2 separate regions of the Homo sapiens genome follow, and region 1 is linked to region 2. Evidence: fine-mapped expression QTL. A gene starts in region 2. The other region holds a variant in brackets. All regions are shown on one strand. Distances are between the middles of the regions.

What was found. PIP is the estimated chance that this variant, and not a neighbour inherited with it, causes the effect.
Region 1: its variant is the best candidate, but not a certain one, in a credible set for the expression of NSD1 in neutrophils (BLUEPRINT, PIP 0.81).

Annotation. Positions count from the first base shown.
Region 1 is chr5:176,932,406-176,934,905 of GRCh38, forward strand. All of the region lies in intron 10 of UIMC1 (ubiquitin interaction motif containing 1), which reads right to left. Among named protein-coding and RNA genes, the nearest start is that of HK3, 34 kb to the left of the region's middle. The variant A/T (reference allele first, on the strand shown) is at 1,305.
Region 2 is chr5:177,132,363-177,134,862 of GRCh38, forward strand. NSD1 (nuclear receptor binding SET domain protein 1) reads left to right here and starts at 1,411. Exons shown (of 23, transcript NM_022455.5): 1 at 1,411-1,590. RefSeq lists enhancers at 402-953, 446-740, 954-1,507, 1,508-2,059, 2,060-2,500 and silencers at 777-1,446, 1,527-1,686, 1,747-2,046.

The sequences.
Region 1 (2,500 bases), 200 kb before region 2:
ATAAGCAATGTCATGAATATAAATAATTTCAAACGGCATGTTAGATGACGTTTATGATGTAATACGGGGGGGCGGCAAATATAAAAACAGGAGACAGATATAGATAGATAGACAGATAGACAGACAGACAGACAGACAGACAAACATCAGCAGAATCCCAGATATGTATCAGCCGAATCCTAATACTGGGAGGGAAAGTGCTTGCTCTTGCAACCTACCAGAAAGAATAAATATAGCAAAATACATGTATTTCACTCGTTGGTTTCATTTCTATTACTTTTCTATTCAGTGGAAGAAGGTACCTTTTTAAATTCCCAGTTGCTCTGGAGATACATCCCAGTTCCTTTAAACCTAATACTTTGGGCATCCAGCCCCTGCTGACCCCCGGTGACCAGGCCGCACCTCCTCTTCATTCTATCTCTAGCTTCTTCATCCAGTCAGCAATAGCAATGCTTTTTTTTTTTTTTTTTTTTTTTACAGGAATGGAACAGCATGGAGGCAATGACTTCTTTATCCTTTCTACTTGCTGCCCACCCACCCTCTCAATTCCACATGGATTTGAATACTCTTTTCCCCACATCAGTGCCACTTCTGTTCACACCGATTAGACCTTTCTGCAGGATCAGCACTGCTTCTACTTCAAGAAATAAAAGCTTTGGCAGTGTTCACACAAGAAGGGGGCTGCTGGCCCAGGCTGCATAAATCTGGAAATTTTGTGAGAACTGACGGGTGAGTGAAACAAACCCTGGAAAGCACCTTCGAGGCAAAAAGTAAATCACTTATAAAGAACTTGTATAAACTATAAGAACAATACTGAGATCCCAACAGACACTGAGGCAAACTTCAGAGAATTCTTCTTCGAAGAAGAAATATAAATTGACTTTTTAAAAAACAAAAAATGTCAACTTCACTACTAATCAAAGAAACATGAAGTACAATGAAATGCCATTGGTTACTATCTATTACTATGCCATATATTTTTTAAAAGAATATCCCTCAGTATTTGGAGGCAAAAGGAATGCTCTCATAAGCTACTGGTAACTTTATACATATAATCTAGTAATTACACTTTTAGTAATCCATATTAAAGAACTACATTACAAGGCTCATTGCTAGTTTAGATTTTTTTTTTTTTCTTTTTTTGAGACAGGGTCTTGCTCAGTCACTCAGGCTGGAGTGGAGTGGTGCAATCACAATCACAGCTCACTGTAGCCTCCAACTCCTGGGCTCAAGTGATCTTCCCACCTCAGCCTCCGAAGTAACTGGGACTACAGGCATGTACCACCACACAAAGCTAATTTTTT[A/T]TTTTTTGCAGAGATAGTGTCTTCCTATGTTGCTCAGGCTGGTCTTGAACTCCTGGCTTTAACTGATCCTCCCACCTCAGCGTCCCAATGTGCTTGGATTACAGGTGTGAACTACCATGACTGACCCTAGATGTTTATCTTTAATAGAAAAAAAAATAGGTTAAAAAAAGTCATGCCCAATATTAGGGGAACAATTAAGCAAGAAGCCCTCCCTTACTCCACCAATCACCAATCAGATTTAATACCTTCCTTTGTGGGTGGTTAGTGCTTACATCTTAGCATTTCGACTGAGTTGTACTATACATAGTCATACCCAAGTCTGTTTCCCTTGCTGGACTGTAAACTCTCTGAGTATAAATTTGAGATCCTATTCAGATCTGTATTATATCCCTTACCATCTTTTGGGTCTTTTAGGCCCCTCCTCCCTACCCTCAGCATCCAGCACAATATTTCACTAACAGCAGGATATGAAAAAATCTTAAGGTGAACCACTATAAAAAGCAATTAATCAATGACTTTAGAGATAAAATAATTTTATATAGAAAAAGACATATAAACACTTTAGAGGTATGAACAAACACTAAATTTAGAACTGCCTTAATTCAACCATAATTTAGAATAAGCTCAAATTCCATGAGAATGCAGGAATGAGTATTAGATCAAAGGAGTCAGAGTAAGCAGTCATGTCCCTTTACGTTTTCTCCGTCTTCCTGCCTCAAACATACATGAGAAGCCTAGAGATGCAACGGGTATCTTGAAACCGTGAATCAAGCCACAAGTTTATGACTGTAGCACCAAAGGCAAAAGCCTGATCCTCAATTATGTCAATGAGCCAACTGCCTCACTCTGGACTTGTGACGTGAGGAGAAAGAAATCCCACGTGTTAAACCCACTGTTAATGATGTTTTCTGTTATTGTGACTTACAGAATTTTCTGACAGATACTAACAGAATTTCTCATAGTTAGTAAAAGGGTTTTCCTTTACTTGTTCTGACTTGTACCCATCTACTTGGTTACAGTGACTACACCGTAAGTGGACACTTCAATCAAGAAAGGCCTATCAGAGTCTTCCTCTAGACTAACCTATGGTCTGAGGGAAAAAAAAATTCTTTCTTTCCATTAAAAGCTATGGCTGCTGGCAGCCATTTTGCTTGTCCCTTAAGAAGAGGCCATCTGTTGAACAGAGACCACTGGAT
Region 2 (2,500 bases):
TCCCGGCCCCCAGCCCGGCGCGCACGCACATACCCACGCCGGCCGGCGCCCGCTGCCCGAGCCCCCGTGCCAGGCCCAGACCTTGACTAGGCGCGGGAGGCGGTGCAGGGACTAGAGGACCCCCTCCCCCGGCGTTCCCCTCGCCCCGCCCGAGGCTGCGAGGACCCCTGGGCTCGGGGGTGGTGAGGGAGCTTCGTCCCGGCTGGGCCCGGGCTGGGGACTCGGCCTCCCTGGGCGGGGGCCGCACGGCTGCAGGCCGAGGTGCGGACGCGCTGTCAGGCTGCAGCCCGGCTCGGTGCCGGGGGTGGGCTCAGCGCTGGGGTCGCCTGGCTTCGTTCCCCCGCGGAGGCCACGGCCGGGCGAGCAGTGCCGGGGCGGGTAACCCGACCCGGCTCCCCAGAGCCGCTCACCCCGCACGGCCCGGCAAGGGGAGGGAGAGGGATGGGGGGAGGGGGAAGGGAAGGGGTGGTGGGTGAGGGGCTGTGGGCACCGCAGGGCCGAGTCCCCGGCCCGTCTGCGCTGCTGTAGGGCGGCTGCCCGCGGCACCCGGGACGATCCAGCCTCTGCCTCGCGGGCGTCGAGCCTGAGACAGGAGGGAGCCCTGGGGCTGCACAGGCTTGGCTCAGGGAGGCAGACCCGAGCTGCTGCCTCCATTTTGTTTCCTGCTCAGCTTGGTCTGTGGTGGTGGTGGTGGTGGTGGTGTGGGTTTGGGGTGCGGCCGGGTAGGGGGTTCGCCTGCGGCCGCGTCTGCTCGGGGCCTGAGGCCTCGAAGACCCCAGCCCAAGCCCCCAGGTGAGCCCTGCGGCAGGAGGGGGGTTGCCTTGGCCTCGGGCCGAACCCAGCGGGCTGAGGGCAGGTGCCCAGTGGATGGGGAGCCTGGGCTGTAACCTAAGATGGAGGCCGGGACTGACGCGGGCCCGAGCAGGGCTGGCGGGACGATCGGACAGGCCTCAGCCGCGCCAGGTGCCGCCTGGGTTGGGGTTCGAGACGCGTAGGGTGCGGGAGCCGTGTGCGGCCCGAGGCCAGCGCCGTGCCCCGAGGTAGGTGAGGGGATCGGAATGCCACCCACGACGCCCGCAGGCCCCGACACTCCAAGGAGGCGCGCGAGGCCCCTGGGGAGCCCGCCTCAGGCCCCGCCCGGGCAGCCGGGCCGGCCCGTAGGCCCCGGCCGCGAGCGGGCGCGCAGGGGGAGGGGAGGGGGCGGCAGCGGCAGCTCCGCTGATTGGGCGGCGCTCTCACAAGCCCGACTTCACCCGCCCTGAACCCCGAAGAGTGAGAGAAGGGAACGCGCGCGCTCGGTGGGGGAAGGGGTGCGCGCGCACTCGGGGCCCAGCCGCACGCGGGCCGGCGCGAGGCGCTCGGTCGCACGCGCGGCCGCGGGGGCGCGCGCGGTGGGGGTGTGAGGAGGAGGAGGCGGCGGCGGAATAGGCCGGGGCAGGTCGCGCTCGCTGCCTTCTCCCCTGAAGAGAGACGCGGGGGGAGGGGGGTGCGGCGAGCGGCCCCGCTCTCTCCCCACCGCTCCGCTCGCACCCCAGTGTAATGAGGGTCACCCCCTCCCCCCAGCTGGCCCGGGAGGGGGCGCGGGGCACGGTAACTAGTGCGCTGGGGTGGGCGGCGGGCAGGCGCGAGGAGAAGGGAGGGAGGAGGGTGGCCGGGCGGGGAAGATGGTGGTGGCCGTAAGGTGAGGGGCTCGGGGGAGGGCCAGGCGCGATGCGGGGTTGGTGGCCGGCGGCGCTGCAGCCGCCGGCCTCCTCCCCCTCCCCCTCCTCCATCACTACCAGCCGGGCTCAGGCCTAGCTGGCCGGGCTGCCGCGAACTTCCTCCCGGCGCGGCCCGTGCCCCGCCGGCCGCCTGCGAACACCTCGGCCTCCGCCTCCCCTCAGGTAGCAGGCTGCGGGGCGCGGGGCCGGCTGCCCTCCCGCAGCAAACTTTGCTTGCTGCTGAATATTGATGAGAGCGATCGGCTCGGCTGGGAGGTGCTGCCGCGGCTGCGGGAAGGAGCGCGGCCCGGGCAGGCGGCGGCGGCGTCGGCAGCAGCCATGTTTTTCGAGCTGTAGCAGCTGCTGCTACCCTGACTGGGCTTCGCTGGCCGCCTCGGTTTCTCCCTCTGCCGGGTCCAGGCCTCTTCGCCCTGCAGCTGCGGATCCAGCAGGCCTGCATTCAGGAAGGCGAGCTCTGGGGTGCAGCCGCCTCGGCCGGCTCGCCTGCGGCCTGCGCACCGCCGCTGCAAAGGCTCCGGCGCTGGCTGGGCGCAGGGTGCAGCGCTATTGTGACCGCTGCGCCCTAGCGAGCCAGGAAGGGGGGGGTACCTTTTTGTGCAGGGTCCAGGAGCCCCCCTCGGACCCCGCAGCCTTTTGCTTTTGAGAGATCCAGCTGCTCGACCCCTGGCGAGGGAGGGGGAGGACTAGTCCTGTTTGAGAATTGGGAATTTTGACGGGCAGAGGGGTTTTAATTTTAGTTCATCCCAAGTGTCCACCAGTCTACAGAGGAGGAAAAAGAG